5 linked regions of the Homo sapiens genome follow. The protein of the gene in region 1 purifies or fractionates together with the protein of each later gene. This does not show direct contact. Each region holds a gene or a part of one and is shown in the gene's direction. Other genes may lie near its edges.

The links.
Region 2: the proteins of UCP3 (region 1) and RBM47 purify together in Homo sapiens (affinity purification with mass spectrometry, with the first as the bait; one large-scale study listed by BioGRID). This does not show direct contact.
Region 3: the proteins of UCP3 (region 1) and RC3H2 purify together in Homo sapiens (affinity purification with mass spectrometry, with the first as the bait; one large-scale study listed by BioGRID). This does not show direct contact.
Region 4: the proteins of UCP3 (region 1) and ZC3H7A purify together in Homo sapiens (affinity purification with mass spectrometry, with the first as the bait; one large-scale study listed by BioGRID). This does not show direct contact.
Region 5: the proteins of UCP3 (region 1) and MEX3A purify together in Homo sapiens (affinity purification with mass spectrometry, with the first as the bait; one large-scale study listed by BioGRID). This does not show direct contact.

Annotation. Positions count from the first base shown.
Region 1 is NC_000011.10:74,006,286-74,010,934, reverse strand, and holds the start of UCP3 (putative mitochondrial transporter UCP3), read left to right. Parts: upstream 1-1,849; 5' UTR 1,850-1,957; exon of another isoform or gene 1,958-3,797; 5' UTR 3,798-3,892; coding exon 3,893-4,018; intron 4,019-4,555; coding exon 4,556-4,649. UniProt on the Homo sapiens protein: Putative transmembrane transporter that plays a role in mitochondrial metabolism via an as yet unclear mechanism.
Region 2 is NC_000004.12:40,437,438-40,441,551, reverse strand, and holds part of RBM47 (RNA-binding protein 47), read left to right. Parts: intron 1-2,627; 5' UTR 2,628-2,658; coding exon 2,659-3,781; intron 3,782-4,114. UniProt on the Homo sapiens protein: Single-stranded RNA-binding protein that functions in a variety of RNA processes, including alternative splicing, RNA stabilization, and RNA editing. Functions as an enzyme-substrate adapter for the cytidine deaminase APOBEC1.
Region 3 is NC_000009.12:122,895,107-122,899,220, reverse strand, and holds part of RC3H2 (roquin-2), read left to right. Parts: intron 1-1,644; 5' UTR 1,645-1,711; coding exon 1,712-1,942; intron 1,943-4,114. UniProt on the Homo sapiens protein: Post-transcriptional repressor of mRNAs containing a conserved stem loop motif, called constitutive decay element (CDE), which is often located in the 3'-UTR, as in HMGXB3, ICOS, IER3, NFKBID, NFKBIZ, PPP1R10, TNF and in many more mRNAs.
Region 4 is NC_000016.10:11,755,546-11,759,659, reverse strand, and holds part of ZC3H7A (zinc finger CCCH domain-containing protein 7A), read left to right. Parts: intron 1-1,120; coding exon 1,121-1,229; intron 1,230-3,289; coding exon 3,290-3,423; intron 3,424-4,114. UniProt on the Homo sapiens protein: May be a specific regulator of miRNA biogenesis. Binds to microRNAs MIR7-1, MIR16-2 and MIR29A hairpins recognizing the 3'-ATA(A/T)-5' motif in the apical loop.
Region 5 is NC_000001.11:156,072,466-156,075,965, reverse strand, and holds part of MEX3A (RNA-binding protein MEX3A), read left to right. Parts: 3' UTR 1-3,500. UniProt on the Homo sapiens protein: RNA binding protein, may be involved in post-transcriptional regulatory mechanisms.

The DNA of each region.
Region 1 (4,649 bases):
CTGTGAATAGGTGTTTCTGATCCCTAGGCTGGTTGCATCCCAACCCAGAGCAGGCAGCCTTCGGACTTCTAGCATGGGCTGGCCTCAGGACATGGAGCCAAAGCAGGCAGACCTGGCCCTGCCCTCAAGCTCCCAAGCTAAAGAGAGCCTGGCCCTCCCTCCCACTAGGTTTCTCCAGAGCCTGCTGCCTCCTGGTTTGGGCTTCTACTCTATTCTTCCCCCACAGACTCCCTGCAATTTACTGCATCACCTCTAGACTAGCAATTACAGATGGAGCTCAGAACCTACTTCCTGAGCCTTCCTAATCTCAGCAGCCCTGACAGCCACTTCCCTCTTAACACTAATGCAGCTGCTTATTCTGCTGACATTAAGGTCAGGGCCTGGTCCAAGGAAGAGGACAGGTACAGCCCAAGCTTTGCACTTGAACATCCATGCTTCTGACCACCTGCCCTGTGACGCTGGCTCTGTGCCCCAGTCCAGAAAAGACTTCTGCCTACTCCTCCTCTGCCCTACCCAGTTAACTCCCTTTCCTTCCCTCCCTTCTGCTTCTCACTCCTCCCCTCCCTTCTCTTCTTCTTCTCCCCTTCCCCCATCACCTGGGGCCCGATTCAGCTGTGCCCAGCCCTTACTCTGAGTGCCCACAGATGGAGCCTCCAGTAGCTTCTGTGGGGCACCCTTCCACCAGGTCCCAGCTCCCTTGGCTCCAGCAGTGTCCATGCTAAAGCCTCCAAGTGTCATGTTGGAGAGAATGGTGGTCACAGTAGATAAGCCCAAAATGCCTTACAGTTTACAGGCTGGAGTCAGGCCCCGCCACGTGCTGGCTACATGACTTCCCTGAGATTCCATTTCCTCCTCAGTAAAATAAGTGGTAAGATTTTAGGATCCCCAGCACTAAAAAGAAACGAAATACTGATACAGGCTCCAACATGGATGAATTTTGAAAGCATTACTATACTAAGTGAAAGAAGCCAGTCACAAACAAGCACATATTGGATGATTCCATTTCTAGGAAGTGTTCAGAACAGGCAAATTTATAGAGACAGAAAGTAGATTGATTAGTGGTTGCCTGAGGCTGGGGAGCGGGGGAAGGGAGGTGACTACCAATGTGTATGGAGTTTTTCCAGGGTGAGAGGGTGATGAAAATGTTCTAAAATAGATTGTGTTGATGGTTGTGCCACTCAGAATATACTAAAAACCATTTGAATTGTGCACTTGAAACAGATGAATTGTACGGTATGTGAATTCTATATCAATAAATCTGTAATTTAAAAAAAAAAAATTAGGTCGGGTGCAGTGGCTCACACCTATAATCCCAGCACTTTGCCAGACTGAGGCAGGAGGATCACTTAAGCCCAGGAGTTCAAGACCAGCCTGGGGAACACAGCAAGACCTCGTCTCTACTAAAAAATTTTAAATTACAAAAAAAAAAAGTAAAAAAAATAGAATCCTAATAGTACCTATCTCATAGGATTGTGGAAAATAGTAGTAATGTATGTAAAATATTTAGCACATAGTAGGCACAAAGAAATGACATTATTATTAAGAGACCTGGGAGAGCTGTGCCCAGCCTATCGTGGGAGGCCTTGACCTTTGGACTCAAAAGTGGCAGCAGGTCCACCCCCCCATACACCCTTGTCACCAAGGAAGCGTCCACAGCTTAAAGGAGCTATATTAAAGCACCCCAAGTCAAGAGGACTGAACCAGATCTGGAACTCACTCACCTCCCCTCTCACCTCACTGCCCTCACCAGCCAGCCTCTTGTCAAGTGATCAGGCTGTCAACCAACTTCTCTAGGATAAGGTTTCAGGTCAGCCCGTGTGTATAAGACCAGTGCCAAGCCAGAAGCAGCAGAGACAACAGTGAATGACAAGGAGGGGCCATCCAATCCCTGCTGCCACCTCCTGGGATGGAGCCCTAGGGAGCCCCTGTGCTGCCCCTGCCGTGGCAGGACTCACAGGTAAGACCCCTTTCTCCTCCCTCATCCCTTCCCCTCTCCCTCTCCCTTCTCCTTGTTCTCCCTTTCATTGGAGGCTTTCAGAGAGCAGCCCCGAGCAGTCAGGGCTCACTAGCTGCAGCTTGTCAGACCTGATAGAGATTCAGTCCAGCCGCCACCTTATGAAAAGGGAGCTGTGGCCTTGATGAGGGTACTGTGGCAGGGCTGGGGCTTGAACCCAACACCCGTGTCACTCACTCAAGACTCACACCCCCTTTGCCTTGCTGGCTGCCTCTGGTGGGATTTTGCAAATCCCCATAGACAGGAAGTGGCTTTCTTCTTTGCCTGCCCCAGAATCTCTGCGATTCCTCCAGAGCATAAATCCCTCTCTTTCCATGAGGACCCTGGGGCCCTCTTCCTGAGTAGGGATGACAGGGGCACTTCTGACCTGAGGCGTGGTCCAGGTCATTTGCTGGGAGCTTTACAGAGCCCATGGTCTCTGCCCAGACGGCTTCTTCAGTGGGCTGCTGTGAAGGCTTTGCCGGGAGGGTGGGTTGGAGTTGGGGAGGCAACTGGTGTTGGGTAGGATGTCTCAAAATGGGGTCCTCTTCCCCTGCTTCAGAGCTACCACAGGGAGTTTTCCTAATGCAGATTCCTAGGCCCCACCCCAGACCTAAATCAGGATCTCTGGGGCTGAGAGCTGAGAATCTGCTCTGTAAACAAGCAGCTCAAGGGATCCTTGGCTCTCCCTGAAGTCTGAGACTCTCTGGGCAGTGAAACAGGCGCAGCTTCAGATGTCAGACAAACGTGGGCACCAATCTCAGCTCCAGCACTTCAGCTGTATGACTAGCAAAAGCCCTGGAAGCCTCAGGTCCCTGGTTTACGAAATGAGAATAATAATAGCAACTACTTGTAGCCTTATGAAGGGATCAAATCAGTCAGTGTCTGTAAAGCCCTCAGCACGGTATCTGGTGCAAGAAGCAACCAGCAAACATTAATGGACCATGCTGACTAGAACATCCCATCCCTCAGGAGCCCCAGCAGAGCTACAGTAATGAGGGTTCCACTTTTGACTTCTTCCTCCACTGGCCAGTGGCAAAAGGCTGCCGGCTGCTAGGGGTCTAGGAGAGTCTGGAGTGAATTGGGAAGAAGATTGGGGAGTGCTGGCCTCAAGGCACCTCCTACCTGTGCCCACCACTGTGGCTTTCCCTCCTCCCGCAGCTTGACTACTGAAAGTTCTAGAGCCCCAAGGTGGGCTTTTGACCTGAGTCTGTGTCCATCCATTCCATTTTCCATGAGTGGCTAAGAACTGCCCCTCTTGTCAAGTGATCACGCTGAGGCCAAGAGTTCAAGACCAGAATAGGCAACATAGAGAGACCCCCATCTCTACAAAAAATAAAAAATTAGCTGGGTATGGTGATGCACACCTGTAGTCCCAGCTACTCGGGAGGCTGAAGGTGGGAGGGTCACTTGAGTCCAAGAGGTCAAGGCTGCAGTGAGCCTGGATTGCACCACTGCACTCCAGCCCAGGTAACAGAGTGAGACCCTGTCTCAAAAAAAAAAAGGAGGCAGTTTGATATTGGGGAGAACAGATGCCTGAGCCTCGGTTTCCTCATGTATACAGTGCAGGTACCACTATCAGCTCTGCCTACCCCTGGTAAGGAGGGGAGGGAGAGGGTCAGGAGGAGGATTGCAAAATTCAAGGGATAGGAACGTGACCTGTTTTTATAGGCCAAATTCATGCAGCTTAAGTATGGCACCACCCAGGCTTCTCCCTTTCTAAAGCCCCTCCTGGGTAAGGAAGAGTTCCTGGGAGCCAGGCCAGACATCACTCCATCAGCCTTCTCTGGCCTGTCTCCTGCAGCCCCACCGCTGCACTGAAGCCCAGGGCTGTGGAGCAGCCTCTCTCCTTGGACCTCCTCTCGGCCCTAAAGGGACTGGGCAGAGCCTTCCAGGACTATGGTTGGACTGAAGCCTTCAGACGTGCCTCCCACCATGGCTGTGAAGTTCCTGGGGGCAGGCACAGCAGCCTGTTTTGCTGACCTCGTTACCTTTCCACTGGACACAGCCAAGGTCCGCCTGCAGGTAGGTGCCCTTTGGCCAAGGGTCATTGATCACATGGAAGGAGGGGCTAGTTCTCTCCCATATCCCCCATGACGTGTGCCCACATGCCCTTCCTCAGAACCCTGACAAAGACTCTCACTCCACTGCTTAGGACCCTTCCTTGCCTCCTCCCATCACCATCCACCAGGACAAAAAAATCTAAATTCTTTGCATGATGTGACAGGGCCCTTTATGGGCTAGGCCCTACTTTGTAAAGCATGCAGTGTGAGGTAAAAGTAAGGAATTAACTGTGTGACCTTGGGCAAGCCACGAAGCACTTATAAAATGGGAAAAACAATCTGTCCCTCTGATTTACTCTGAGGATCAAACACCAAGCCATGTGTATAATACTGCTTTGTGAATGGTAAAATGCTGCGCAGACACCAGTGATTTCTACTGTGACCAGCATGGTTGTTCTCAGGCCCAGCCCAGGCAGGCCCAGCCCCAGCAGGGTTCCTGTGCACGCAGCCCCTTCTTGCCTTCCCATCTGAGTCCTCACCCCCTGCTATTGTCCCTCAGATCCAGGGGGAGAACCAGGCGGTCCAGACGGCCCGGCTCGTGCAGTACCGTGGCGTGCTGGGCACCATCCTGACCATGGTGCGGACTGAGGGTC
Region 2 (4,114 bases), on another chromosome or scaffold:
GGCATTTCCTGCCTAGGTCACAGATTGTAACTACATGGGTGTTTATGCAAATAGTCCTCTTAAAAATATATCCTTATCTTCCATTTGGAAGAAGGGAAAGGTCTTCATGTTCAGATTTAATGTTGAAATTTCTTGGTTGGGTGTGGTGGCTCATGCCTGTAATCCTAGCACTTTGGGAGGCTGAGGCAGGAGGATTACTTGAGCCCAGGAGTTTGAGACTAGCTGGGGTAACATAGTGAGACTCTATCTCTATTTTAATTGGGATCTTTTTTTTTTTGGTTCCTTTTTTTGTGGAGAACGAGGTCTTTCTATATTGCCCAGGCAGGTTTCAAACTCCTGGGCTCAAGTAATCCTCCCACCTCTGCCTCCCTAAGAGCTGGGATTACAGGCACAAGCCACTCTGCCTGGCCCTCCATCTCTATTTTTAAAAAAAGAAAAAAAAATGTTTTTCAACTTGAAACTACAGAAACTAATTTTCCAAGTATACTACAAAAAAATTTCATGATAACTGGAGACGTCAAACCAGCTTCCAAGCACTTGAAGAGGAAAAAAATAATAAGAATAGAAGCCACGTGTAACAGATATTTTTAAAGAACTGAAGATGTTTATCTTAAGAATTACTCTAAAATTGAAAGAATTGGTCTAAGATTTTACTCAAAAGTTTGGATGAAATTAATAACTGACATTTCTTGAGCATTTATAATATTCTAGGCACCATTCAAAATGCTGTGTATGTATTAACTCACTCCTCTAAACTTAATGAGGTTAATACTATTATTATCATTCTGATTTTATAGGTAGGGAAACTGAGGTGAGGCATGGAGCAGCTAACACTAGCAAGTATTAGAGCTGAGATTCACAAACAAACATATGCAGTCTGGCTCCAGAAGCCACATACTTACCTGCTAAACTGTACTGCCGCTTGATATTAGAGCAAATTAACCACAAAAGGACTATTTTGGCCATCTGGCAAATAAATAGCTCAGATTTATTTTGTTTCATTATAGTTTTATTTTTTCCTTCAATGATCAAATTCATTTTTATTATCCTTGAAATTTCCCTTAATATTCTTGTATACATCTCCTAGTCCTAAATTTTAAAAAATGAATGATACTCCGGGTTCTAATTAATTGATGAAACCTTATATGGCCATTAAAAATGATGTTTTTACAAAGATTTTTAAGAATACAGAGGAATGCTTATAACATAAAGTAGCACCATGTAAATTAGGCGGAAGCCAGGCTTCCCCCTCCCACCTCCTCAAGAAAACATCTAGAAAACAGATGAGAAAGTTTCATTGTGCTATCATTGGGTAGGAAAATTAGGAATAATTTCTTATGTACTTTTCTTAACTTTCTATAAATTTAACTGAATACTTTTATAGTCCAAAAAATGAAATAGATTTCATTTTTTAAAAGGCGAATTGGAGCCTTTCATTACAGAAGTATAGTCTGCAGCTCATCGTAATAATCTTATTGCATAATTTAGAATCACTTCCACAGAGCCCTTGGCCATATAAGTGAAGGCGGCACAGTTCAGACCTGCACTGTGATACGTGGCTGTTTAATTAAAATTTAAAATCCAGCTCCTCAGTCACACTAGCCCCATTCCAAGTGCTCAGTAGCCACATGTGGCAAGTGACAGCTTTTCTAGCATCATAGAAAATTCGATTGCCCAGCATTGGTTTGGAAGAAAAAACAGGGAATCTGGAGCCAGAAAACTTGGAATCAAGTCTGCCTACAAGCTGACACTTGCTGTGTGAAATGGGGCAGTTTACTCAACCTAAGCCTATTTCCCCATGACCAAATTGGGACTGAGGATAATACCATGTACCATATACAGAGGTTAAGAAAATTAAGAGAATGCAGGTGACAGTTCTCTGAAAACAATAGTGTGGTTTACCAGGTAGATGCTGCTTCCCAGTCCCCCAGCTTGAAGTCAGTCTAGCTCTTCAAGGACTGATTCCAAATCTTTGAATGCTTCACACCAAGAATTTTACCTGAATGCCACCATCAAAATCAGATTAGCTCTTATTACAGTTCCTGGACCAAGCCCGTGGCAATGTGCACATTTCATTTCTTCCTTGTAAAAAGCTTTAATACACAGCTCTCTCTATACAATGACAGCTCCTAAAAGTTTTCTTTAATAATTTAAAATCTTCACTGTATTTCCATTCCTACAATTAAAAAGACTCCCTTAAAAAAGAAAAGAAGAAAGCTGTGTTCACCAAAGAAATACATGGAGTTTGTCAAATTCCATATAACAAGGAAATCAGGTGGAGTTAACGGTGCAGGAATGAAGCAAAAGAACGTGAGGTTTTTACCAAAAATGAGAGCAGCTTCGCAAAACTTCAAAGCTGTCGGGGTACTGATGAAATGGAAGTACTTGCTCATTCTGATTTTTTTTTTTCTCTCCTAACTCACTTCTGGTTTTTGCTGCAAGACAACTTGACTATTTTAGACAAATGTAGGGCTGCTGCATTTCCAGAACGCCTCCATCCTATTTCTCATTTAAACCACCTCCCCTTCCCCGTGGCCTATTAATGCATACTTGCAAGGCTGCGAAACACAACCCAAAAGAGGCAAGATCCAGCGGTTCCCCACTCACGCTTCTTTCTGCTTCCCCAGGTTTCCGCCAGCTGTGGATGCCTTTGACATTATGACCGCAGAGGATTCCACCGCAGCCATGAGCAGTGACTCGGCCGCCGGGTCCTCCGCCAAGGTGCCCGAGGGCGTGGCGGGCGCGCCCAACGAGGCAGCACTGCTGGCGCTGATGGAGCGCACGGGCTACAGCATGGTGCAAGAGAACGGGCAGCGCAAGTACGGCGGCCCACCGCCCGGCTGGGAGGGCCCGCACCCGCAGCGTGGCTGCGAGGTCTTCGTGGGCAAGATCCCGCGCGACGTGTACGAGGACGAGCTGGTGCCCGTGTTCGAGGCCGTGGGCCGCATCTACGAGCTGCGCCTCATGATGGACTTTGACGGCAAGAACCGCGGCTACGCCTTCGTCATGTACTGCCACAAGCACGAGGCCAAGCGCGCAGTGCGTGAGCTCAACAACTACGAGATCCGCCCGGGCCGCCTGCTCGGCGTGTGCTGCAGCGTGGACAACTGCCGCCTCTTCATCGGCGGGATCCCCAAGATGAAGAAGCGCGAGGAAATCCTGGAGGAGATTGCCAAGGTCACCGAGGGCGTGCTGGACGTGATCGTCTACGCCAGCGCGGCCGACAAGATGAAGAACCGCGGCTTCGCCTTCGTGGAGTACGAGAGCCACCGCGCGGCTGCCATGGCTCGCCGCAAGCTCATGCCTGGCCGCATCCAGCTGTGGGGCCACCAGATCGCCGTGGACTGGGCCGAACCTGAGATCGACGTGGACGAGGACGTGATGGAGACCGTGAAGATCCTCTACGTGCGCAACCTCATGATCGAGACCACCGAGGACACCATCAAGAAGAGCTTCGGCCAGTTCAACCCCGGCTGCGTGGAGCGCGTCAAGAAGATCCGCGACTACGCCTTCGTGCACTTCACCAGCCGCGAGGATGCCGTGCATGCCATGAACAACCTCAACGGCACTGAGCTGGAGGGCTCGTGCCTGGAGGTCACGCTGGCCAAGCCCGTGGACAAGGAGCAGTACTCGCGCTACCAGAAGGCAGCCAGGGGCGGCGGCGCGGCTGAGGCAGCGCAGCAGCCCAGCTACGTGTACTCCTGCGACCCCTACACACTGGCCTACTACGGCTACCCCTACAACGCGCTCATTGGGCCCAACAGGGACTACTTTGTGAAAGGTTAGTGGGGGCTCTTCTCCTGGGTGGGGCCCCCAAGAACGTTGCCTCCTAGGCAGGGGGCACCAGGGATACCGTGGCTGGCATTTGCTGAGCTGGTAGGTGCTGAAGGCCCTCCCACCCCCGTTTTGGGTTTGCATTCTGGGTCTAATTCTTTCCTGGCACCGAAGGCCGTCACTTATGCAGCACTGATAGAAATACAGATCGTTCTGGGGTGAGCGGTAAAATCACAGGAATATGCAAGTGCTGGAATTCTTCCTTGCCGAGGTCCACCGGGTTAGGGGCTAGTCCACCATTCTCTTGGTGCTTACGTTAAAACCTGCTTGTGATATTAAA
Region 3 (4,114 bases), on another chromosome or scaffold:
CAAGGCGGGAGAATCACTTGAACCTGGGAGGCAGAGGTTGCAGTGAGCCAAGATCACACCATTGCACTCCAGTCTGGGCGACAGAGGGAGACTCTGTCTCTGAAAAAAAAAAAAAAAAAAAAAAAAAAAACACAATAAAGGCTAATAGAATTTTTTTGTATGTTGGCATAATTGAGAATACTTTCTGTTATATATTTTTTCTCTTTGAATGTGACTACATTTTTAAACATCTAATTTCTGTGGAACTAATATATTTGGGTTGGTAAACATTCCTGTGAAATAAAGTATTAGTTGTTTGATTGCCCTAAATACCTAGATTTCTTGTTCACCAGAGAGCTTTTGTCAGACTTATGTTAAGTCTTGAATTGGAAGATAAAGAAATTCTGGGAAGTTTAGTGTGTTCAAATTAGTATCGTTTTGCTACTAAATCTTTTACTTTACTAAACTTATGGAACTTTTTTTTTTTTTTTTGAGATTAAGTTTCGCTCTTTTTGTCCAGGCTGGAGTGCGATGACGTGATCTCGGCTCACTGCAATCTCCGCCTTCCACATTCAAGTGATTCTCCTGCCTCAGCCTCCCTAGTAGCTGGAATTACAGGCATGTGCCACCACGTCTGGCTAATTTTGTATTTTTAGTAGAGACAGGGTTTATCCATGTTGGTCAGGCTGTTCTCAAGCTCCTGACCTCAGGTGATCCTCCCACCTCGGCCTCTCAAAGTGCTGGGATTATAGGTGTGAGCCACCACGCCCAGCAGGAACATTTTGATCTCAGAAATAAGAAAAATTCTCTCACTGTTTTTTTCTATGTGCCTTTTCAGTTTTTAATCATGCATATATAACTTTTTAGAATAATGTTTTATTCTTCTGTGTCTTCCTCATTGGACTTTACAGTTTTTGGTTATATATATCAATCGCTAAATAATGTAGTTTTATCAGAAGTATTGTATTGAACAATACAAGATATTTAAGACAATTTTTTTGTTTTACTTTGGCACTGTATGTTGTGGTCAGCATTAGTCTTTCATTTATGAACAAACAGCTCTCTTAATCATCTCTCAGTCATCACAGTCTTCTCTTATATGTTGATTTTCAGTGCCTCATTTTGCTTCCTAGCCAAGTCTTGTCAGAGATTTCCTCTTTCAGGTGGCAAAGCTGTTTTCTTCACACTTGAGTCTCTACAATATTGTTTGGATCAGTAGTTTCCAAAGTTCATTAACTCCTGGCCATACTTTATTATGTTTTGGGGTACTGGTTATCCAAGGGAAACACTTTTTTAAACAACAAAACAAAAAAACCGCCCAGCAGTCCAAAGTAATTTGTGTTCCTAAAAATGGAATATGGAAAGTTAATTTGCTTGTTTGATGTGGTCGTTGAGAAAAATACATAAAAGCTTTGATGTTTATTATGTGAGCAACCAATATAAATACAGTTTAGTTGAAAGGAACACTATTAAGGTATTGTTTCCAGGCAGAATTTCAGAAATGTAATTAATTCAGCAAATAGGTTTTTTAAAAAAGACATCCAAAGGTTATAAAATTATTTAGAAGTATTTTAGGTCTGAAGCTGTAATAGTTGACTTAAGCAATTAACTCTTCAAAGGTGAATGATGAATATGTGGTTAATTCATACTTTTGTCCATTTCTAGCTTACAAAACACTACACAGCAAAATAATGATCTGCTAGACTGCTAACCCGAGCATCCAGCTTCCACAATGCCTGTGCAGGCAGCTCAATGGACAGAATTTCTGTCCTGTCCAATCTGCTATAATGAATTTGATGAGAATGTGCACAAACCCATCAGTTTAGGTTGTTCACACACTGTTTGCAAGACCTGCTTGAATAAACTTCATCGAAAAGCTTGTCCTTTTGACCAGACTGCCATCAACACAGATATTGATGTACTTCCTGTCAACTTCGCACTTCTCCAGTTAGTTGGAGCCCAGGTAAGCATTCAAGATTTTACTATAGGTTGGTGCAAAAATAATCACTATTTTTGCCATTATTTTAACGGCTTGTCCAGCCTGCAGGCTACATGTGGCCCAGGACATCTTTGAATGCGGCCCAACACAAATTCATAAACTTCCTTAAAACATTGTGAGATTTTTTTTGTGATTTATGTTTATGTTTTTAGCTCATCAGCTATCGTTAGTGTTAGTGTATCTTATGTGGCCTTTTTTTTTTTTTTTTTTTTTTTTTTAGACAGAGTCTCACTCTGTCACCCAGGCTGGTGTGCAGTGGCGTGATCTGGGCTCACTGCAACCTCCACCTCCTGGGTTCAAGCGATTCTCCTGCTTCAGCCTCCCAAGTAGCTGGGACTATAGGCCCACATCACCATACCCAGCTAATTTTTTTTGTATTTTTAGTAGAGACGGGGTTTCACTATGTTGGCCAGGCTGGTCTGGAGCTCCTGACGTCAGGTGATCCGCCCACCTCAGCCTCCCAGGGTGCTAGGACTACAGGTGTGAGCCACTGCACCCAGCCATCTTATGTGGCTTTAATGGCAAAAACTGCAATTACTTTTGCAGCAACCTAATAATTTGTTACATGAAATAGTTATTGAACTTTATTCAGTAATAGGTATATAGTATGTTTAGTGATCATTAAGGTGTAAAAAATAAATTTCAATGTACCTGATTTTCATGATTGTATTCTGCGAAAGATTTTCTTTAGATAATGTCATATCCTTATACAAAACCTTAGATTACATTATAGTTACATATTCAATTCTGTGGCTAAAATTTATGTATATAAGTGATATTGGTGGATAAGAAATATTTTTATATAAGCATATATATTTATTCACCAGGTGATATGAAAAGAAATGTAATCAAAGCTTTGACCAGAAACAGGTTTTTTTGTTGTTGTTGTTACTTTTTTTTACTTCACTTGACTTTTTATATAATAGTGTAAATGAAACAATAAGGTCTATGTAGGGATGTATATATGGAAAACCAAAAACCAATGTGTCAGTAATAAATTCTCCATGATTTCTTCTGAACATGTGTTGTATCAAGCTTGTCTGGCTTTCAGGCCACATGCAGCCCAGGACAGCTTTGAATGCAGCCCAACACAAATTCGTAAAGTTTTTTTTTTTTTTTTTTAACTCATCAGCTATTGTTAGTGTTAGTGTATCTTATGTGTGGCCCAAGACAATTCTTCCAGTATGGCCCACGGAAGCCAAAAGACACCTCTGAGCTATGTGATGCTTTAGTTGAACATTAGGGGGGAAAAAAAAAAGAACATGTGCTATAGAATTCATGTTTGTAATTATTTTATTGAATCAAAGCAAGACTCTAGATTTGAAATAACATATTTAATGAGGGTCTACTTTGCATTAGGTTTGACAGAAAGTATTCAGCATTTATTATTACTAATTCTTACCATAGGTTTTCAGGTAGTTATTATCCCCATTTTACAAGTTAGGAAGAGATGAAATTCTGTACATCATGTGCTACATATTAAAGCCAGAAAGGAATTATTTTTCTGATTTAATAGAAAATCCAATAAACCAAAATACTTCATTCATTCCTTTAGTATCTTGATATTTGAAGTCCTCCTTGTAAAGCACAAAATCTCTTTTCAGTGTTTATAATCAAGTTACACACTATGAAATCAAGGTGCATCTACAATTGATAGTGTATCTTAATTTAATTGCCAGTATATTTTTGTTAATGGAGTATAAAATGTTGCCTCTTGCAAACAACATTTTAGATTTGATAAAATATCATAGACTTTTTGTAAGAATACTAGCTACCACCAGACACAGTGGCTTACACCTGTAATCTCAGCACTTTGGGAGGCTGAAGTGGGCAGGCTGCTTGAGGCCAGGAGTTCGAGACTAGCCTGGACAACATGGCGAAACCCCATCTCTACAAAAAATAAAAAAATTAGTCAGGCATGGTGGTGTGTGACTGTAGTCCCACCTACTTGGGAGGCTGAGATGGTGAGATGGGAGGTTCACTTGAGCCCAGGAGGTCGAGGCTGCAGAGAGCCAAGATCGTGCCACTGCACTCCAGCCTGGGTGATGGGAGTGAGACCCTGTCTCAAAAAAAAAAAAAAAACCTAGCTACCATTTATTTAGCATCTGCTATAGGTCAACAGGTATTGTGTTAATA
Region 4 (4,114 bases), on another chromosome or scaffold:
TGTAAACACCTGGCACAGTGCCTGGCCTTCTCCTTTACCTGCTTTTCTTCCTGCTCCTTATCATTGAGCTTTGAAAGACTATGGTAAATGTTTCCCTAGTAATATGACTAAGTACTTACTGGGGTTTGACGGGGGAAAGAATATGACTATTTTATCCAGTACTGACTTTATGCAGAAGATTTTAAGGGTGGGGTCACTGACATTGGTCCAAGGGAGGAAATGTACAGTGTTAAGGGGGCTGAGCGAGTTTTAGCCAAAACTCTGAAAAACGTGACAGATGCTAAGCATTTAATGCCACGTAAGCTAAATAATGTAGGGCCAGCTGCCGTTGAAGCACAAACTAAGATAAGCTAATAATTAGTTGTACTAGGATTTATACCTCATACAGACAAGTAGGTTGATGGTATTCAAGAATGCATTCTCCGTGATGGAGGTTTTCTTGGTTCCTGGCTCATAATTCTTAGGGAAGTCTGCGTTCTGCTGATCACGATCACTTTATTTTCCTACCAGTATCACTGTATTTACTTTGTTAAATAAAAATACAAATAACCTGAAGAGGTATTATTTGAAAGCTGTGTAACTCCATGGTATGGCTAGTGTGATAATTGTCTTCTGATAATGCATATGTAGTGAATTATGGCCGAGGTTAGTTTCCAGTACTGGTTATAAGTAAGTTAAATTTCTGAAATGTTTTGGGCACTGTTCAGTACCCTTTGGAGTAGCCTGCAGTTTCTTTACTGCTTTCAAGTGCTGATGTGGAGGAATCATTAGTGTTGGGCAGGGAAACAGGAGCTGTCAGACTGAGAGGGCCAGGGATGTTCATTGTGGAGATTAAATGTTCTGAGTAAGTGAGTTTGTAGACATTTTCTTGTAAGAAAATGTTCCATGCTTTACTCTGTTTTGGACATTTTCTTTTGAAAAATTTTGAGATAGAAACCTTAATATCATTTCATATATTTAGAGCATATAGTTAATTTGAGTAGAGTCAAATTAATCTTACTTTAGAATTTGATTACTAAGTATTAGCATGGATAATAATGCTTCTTTTGCTTAAATGTAAAAATTAGGCCGTTTTACTAGGTGTACTTTGTCTTAATCATATTCCTATTTTTTTATACAGCTGTGCAACCATATTGCTTCTGGGAAAAAATGTCAATATGTTGGAAACTGTTCCTTTGCTCATAGTCCTGAGGAAAGAGAAGTTTGGACTTACATGAAGGAGAATGGGAGTAAGTTAATCTTTTAGCTGTGTCCTTGAGCTAGCTTGCCTGAAAGTTCTTTTCCTCTCTATAAATATGCCAGCTTCCTGTGAACACAGAAAGCAGTTTGCATTCTAAACGGTTGCCCCGTTTCATCAGTAGCTCTGTTGGCGATGATGCCTGGAAAATGTGGGCACAGCCTCAGTGGGGTAGAATGTGGCGTCTGATCTGTGTTTGGTTAGGTCAGATTTGGATATAAATATATAGGTCTGCATGCATCCTTACATGTAATAGATGTATTCCTAAAAAATGGCCTGGGGAAGTTCAGTACTCCCTTGACTGTTTAAATCAGATCATCTGCTCGTATTGGAAATAGTTTGCCCTCTGAATTAACCAGGTTAGAATTGGCAGTTTCTTCAGGGAGGCATTACTAATCAAACAGGCTCAGAATCAGAGGTCCAAGGAAAGAATGTTTATTTTGGTCAAATTCCAAGTTTATTGTGGGAGCCTTTGAGAGGAGCCGCAGACAGCCTTTCACTTTTGACCATAAAATGTTTTACTACAAGGATCATTATTCTTTAATCTTAAGTAAACTGATGAAAGGTATACTGACTGCAGTCTCTGGATTATAAGAACCAACCAGATTTGACTGTTGCCTGCCATGTTTCAACCACATAGATCGTCAGTGGTGTGTGGACGGGATTCCCTCTAGCTGTCTTGCTGGGAGTGAGGCTATGTAGTCCGGCCTGACTGAAGATGCCCTTGCGCACCAGGCTTTTGCAATGACTCCTGCCACCACTGGTCTTAAGGAAGAAGCATTTCTAGTTTATCTCTAATCTTTGCCTGATGATACATTGTTAGAAACCATTAGGCAGACAACAAAGCCAAGTTTTAACCAGGTCCTCATTACCAGAGTTTTTAGCACAGTGGTTCTCAACTGGGAACAAATTTTTTTTTTTTTTTTTTTTTTTTTTTTTGAGACAGAGTCTCGCTTTGTCACCCAGGCTGGAGTGCAGTGGCGTGATCTCGGGTCACTGCAAGCTCCGCCTCCCGGGTTCACACCATTCTCCTGCCTCAGCTTCCCGAGTAGCTGGGACTACAGGCGCCTGCCACCACACCCGGCTAATTTTTTGTATTTTTAGTAGAGCCGGGGTTTCACCGTGTTAGCCAGGATGGTCTCGATCTCCTGACCTTGTGATCCACCCGCCTCAGCCTCCCAAAGTGCTGGGATTACAGGCGTGAGCCACCGTGCCCGGCTGGGAACAAATTTTGCCACTCCCCTTCCCTGTGGACATTTGGCAATGTCTGGAGATATTTTCATTGTCATGACTGGCAGAAGTTGCTCAGGCATCTAGTGGGCAGAGGCCAGGGATGCTACTCACCATCCTGTAATGCACAGGGCATACCCCCAGCAAAGAATTCTCTAGCCAGAATGTCAACCACATGGAGGCTGAGAAACCTCAGCTTTAGCACTTGGCAATAATGCAGAATACACCTGTTCTTACCATAGGAAGCAACTGGCAGCCACTGCCCAGGACTTGGTCATGGTTGTCTTGTCAGTTGCAGCCCAGCATATCCGCCCTCTGGGACTGTGGCTTGACTGATGGACTCCCATCAGGGTCAGAATCTTGGTCCAGTAGTAGTATGTTTCTCATCTTTCTCAGTAAGCAGTGAGGAGTGTATCAGCTCCAAGTCCCCCAAGCCACGTAAGTAGCCTTGTGTGGTTCTAGCTCTGACACTGAGTGTGGAACGTAGGGCGACAGAGGCAGTGGTGAGGCTTTTGTGACAATACTGTTTATAATGGTTTCTGAGTTTTAAACATCCCCAAAGTGTCGTGCAAATGCAGGGAGGGGTTAATTAATCCTGAGAACTAATATTTGCCATCTAACAGTCCTGAAAGTAGTTCTTATGCGTGAGAGTTTACCTGCTGCTTGAACTGGGTGATCTCTCCATGTCTAATATAATAGTCTCCTTCAGCCCCCTTGAGTTTCTTTTGAACTGTATGCTGACTGCTACAAAATATGCACATAGTTGCATGTATTTAAATGGAGTTTAGTTGCTGCTGCTGAAAGTAATTCATTTTTCTTTAGTACAAGATATGGAGCAATTTTACGAACTATGGCTCAAGAGTCAAAAAAATGAAAAAAGTGAAGACATAGCCAGTCAGTCAAACAAGGAAAATGGAAAACAAATTCACATGCCAACAGATTATGCTGAAGTTACAGTGAGTACCGTGCGTCATTTACCCTCTCTTTGCCGAGCCATTGATGGAGCCTTTCTTTTCCCTTTTCTTTTTTTTGAGATGGAGTCTCGTTGTGTCACCAGGCTGGAGTGCAGTGGTGTGATTTCAGCTCACTGCAACCTCCGCCTCCCTGGTTCAAGCAATTCTCTTGCCTCAGCCTCCCAAGTAGCTGGGATTATAGGCTCGCGCCACCACGCCCAGCTAATTTTTGTATTTTTAGTAGAGATGGAGTTTCACCATGTTGGCCAGGATGGTCTCGAACTCCTGACCTCGTGATTTGCCTGCCTCGGCCTCCCAAAGTGCTGGGATTACAAGCGTGAGCCACCATGCCCGGCCTTTCTTTTCTTTCCCATCTTCTCCAAAACCCGGCTCCGTCACTCACTGCCTGCCCTTCTCTGTTCTGTGTCTTCATCTTCTCTCTCTAGTGGTTTCCTGCCACTAGCTTAAGTCTCCTCATGTGAAAAAATCCTTTCTTCAATCCTTCTGACTTTGGAGCCAGAGAATCATAAGTCCAAGTCCTGGTTTCTCTCCTTACTTGCCTGGCACCCTGGGTAGATTATTTATGTCTCCGAGTGGGGTTGTCCTGATGGATTAGTGAAGTATGAGGAGTCTGTGACTCTTCCCTAGTGGGAGGCCCCAGCAGGTGGCTCAGGAATGTGGGCTGTCTACCCCG
Region 5 (3,500 bases), on another chromosome or scaffold:
CGTTTCTGTGGCTGAAAGGCTCAGAAGCCATCTGTCCCCACAAAGCTGGGCTAGAGGAATCTGGAGAGGAGTCCTCCTCTCTGCCCCTGTCCCCTGCAGTGTTTCCCTTCACTCTCTCCGCCTATCTTCCCTTCCTTTGGGATCTTCCCTTTCCTCAACTCTTTCCTTTCCCTCCAGCTCTTTGCTTTGCTTTCTTTTGGTGGCTGTCACTCCCAGCTCTGTCTTGTTCCTTGTCTTTGTCTTTCTTCCCTTCCCCCTGCCCCTGCCCCTACCAGCCCAGCTTTGGGGACACCATCCTTCTGGGGAGAAGTAGGGGGAGGAATATTTGGATGGTCCCTCCATTCCTCTTCAGGCATCTGGAGGCCCTCTCCCCCACTCCTCCAAAGAAACATCTCAAATTATTGATGGAATGTATCCCCATTCTCAGTGAAAATGTGAGGAGGGGACTAATACTGGGGTAAAGGGTCAAACCCCCACCTTCATCACTATGGGCATTATATTTAGGGAGTAGTTCTTGGGCTGGATTTTCTGGTTGTGGAAGTGGGGGCGCCAGAGTAGTGTGTCTGCTATTTAAAGGAGCAGGAAAGGGCGTGAGGCAGGAGGAGAGACTGGTGGAGGGAAGAGCTGCTCCTCCCATGCAGTGCCCGACTCCCTGCACCCCTCTCAACCTGACCTGAACCTTTATTGAATCCTTATTAGCTTGAATCCTTATTAGCTTGAATCCTCCATGCAAATCATGGAGTCTGTGTCCCACCTGATGTGGTTGAGGAGAAGCCAGGTCTTCAAAGAGGGGTCAGCCTGGGGCAAAGCAGGACTGGGGGGAGGTGGGCAGCAGGGCCTATTCTGAGAATCACATATTGTTACAGGCCTTGCACCCCCTTTGCTGCTTCCCTCCTGCTCATTTGGGGCTGCCACCAGCTCTCCACCCTCCTGGTTCCGCTGGCCGGGCCAAGAGAGGATGGAGGGATGGGAGTCCCAGGAGATCCTTGTAAATAGTGGGGTGGGACTGTTCTGAGTGATCACCCGAGCACTTAAAGCTCCAGAGTCCCATTCTTCCTGGATGGAGCAGGTGGAGGTGCAGAGGGGATTTCCTCCTCTCCTTCCTCCTGTCGAGAATTAACACCTCTCCACAGCCTTCCCCTCCAGAACACCAGCCAGGGAGGGGTGGGGAAGGAGGTCACAGCCAAGAAAACTGCCCTGTGACGACTTCCCTCCTTCCCGCCTATGTGAGCCATCCTGAGATGTCTGTACAATAGAAACCAAACCAAATGGGCACCCTCGGTTGCCGGGGGGCAGGTGGGGAGGGGGGTGGGAAGAAGGGATGTCTGTCTGTCGTCCCCCTCCCCCTCTCCACTCTTTACCCACAAAGGCAGAAGACTGTTACACTAGGGGGCTCAGCAAATTCAATCCCACCCTTACCAATTGAGCCAAACCTAGAAACAAACACAAAACACGAATAGTGAGAGACAAAATAGAGGAGAGAAAGAGAGCATGAGAGGGAGCGAGACAGGCGACCAACACAGAGGAGAGAAAACAAAAATAGCAAAAAAAAAAAAAAAAAGCAGTTCTTTATAATTTAATATTCTATTTTAATAAAGGCGTTTATTACCATATAAATGTAGCAAAGAACCTGGGCTAATATGAAAAAAAAAGACTTTTTATTAGGTAATTTATTATATGAAAAGGATATTTTATTTTATGATAAAGTGATCCTTAAAAAAATAAAAAAACTTTAGAAGGTTTAGAATATATGTAGGGAGAGAAGAAGAAAAAAATACATTTGTATTCAGAGTTAAATCTTAAAAAAAAAAAGTGTTTTTAATATATGTTTGGGTTTACGTTGCTTTTTTCCCCCACTTTTTTTTTGGGGAGGAATGTCATTTGCTTTTCTTGGGGGAGCATCCCGGGGGTGAATGGTGGAGAGAGGAGCTGGGGGAACCCGGTCCCTCCTGGGACCCTTCCAGTAGATTGGATTTCACTCCATGGACTCCTCCTCCCCTCTCCCCCTCCCCCTCAGGGGAGCCGGCAGAGCCAAACAAAGAAAGGGATTAACAAGAAAGGAAGAAGCTGTAGGACTAAGGACTGAGGATCCTGGGGTGTCCCCCACCACTTTCCCCTGCCCTGTCGCAGGGGCAAGTGAGGAGGGGGAATCCAGAATTAAGGCCTAGCAGGCCTATAGGAACCCTCAGAGATGTGTGAGATTTAAGAGATCTAGATTTTTTTTTAACCAAAAACAAGAGAGAAAGAGAAGAAAAAGAGAAACCGAGGGGTTTAAAAGAAAAGAATACTACAAAATAATAATTATTAATAATAATAATTCAAATTTATTTCATATAATCCTAGAGAGAGAAAGAAACAATTACTAGTTACTTAGTAGACAATATTAAGATAGCTTAAAGTTTAGTAGCATTGAGGGCCCCTGGGTCCAGTAGAATGTATAAAAGTTGTAAGGAAAAGATAAATAGAGGAGGGAAGTGGCTGAGTCCACCCTGAGTTGCCCAATCTTCAGATACCAGGGTTGGATCAGGTTGCTAGTTTAAGATTGGGAGCTTCCAGTCTGCTGGGGTTGATTCTGAGAATCCTTGGATTTTTAAATTGTAGGACAAAGAAATGAGGGGTTCATTTCCCAGGGTCTTGGAAAGGATGCACACTGATCATCTCAATAAGACAGGGGCTGGGTTGGGGGCAGCAGAGGAGGCCAAGCACATTCACCTGCACCCCTAGTACCTGGGCAGCCCATACTCCAATGTGGTATGTCCCCTCCTGGGGCTCCCAGCTCAAACCCTCCCATGCCTGCTTCCCCCAGGCCTAACTGAGGAAGTCCTTCTTGAAGTGTGACCTCGGTCCACTTCTCTACAGATTGATTTAAGAGCCTGGGAAGTCATTCCACAAACAGACACACATGCACACACGCTTCTCACCTTCAGAGCTTCAAGAGCACTGAGGCGATCAGTCCCCTACCCCTGTTCCCATCCAGCTTTCCACTTAGCTTTGACCTCCATGGCAGCAGTAGCAGTAACAATCTCAGTAATTGTTCTTTAAAGCTGACTCGTTCTTCACCTACTTGCAAAGTGCTTTCTTGTCTCATAAAAGTTAGATTCCAAGAAGGACTTCCCACGGAGTGGAGTGGAAACACTGTCCTTGAAGGCCTGGGAGAAAGGCATCCCCATGGGCACAGAGGCTGGGGAAAGGCACAGGGACTTTGGGTGACCCTAACCCTGACCCTCTGCTCCAGTTCACCTCCATCTATATGTGTTCAGGTAGGGGTCATCTACTGTACCCTGGCCTGGGAACACATTGCCCTCCCCACACAAAACTGGAGGGCTTGGCTTCTGCGTGTGAGAAATCAACATTTTTAAAGCACTTGCCTTCTACCAACCCCAGCTTGCAATCACTGGGCCTTCCCCTCCTATCCAAGGGGTTGGAGGGGCCCCTTGGCTCTCCTTTTGGCAGGAGGAGCCTGCTTCATTACACCAATGACTCTGCCATCCCCCTCCCTG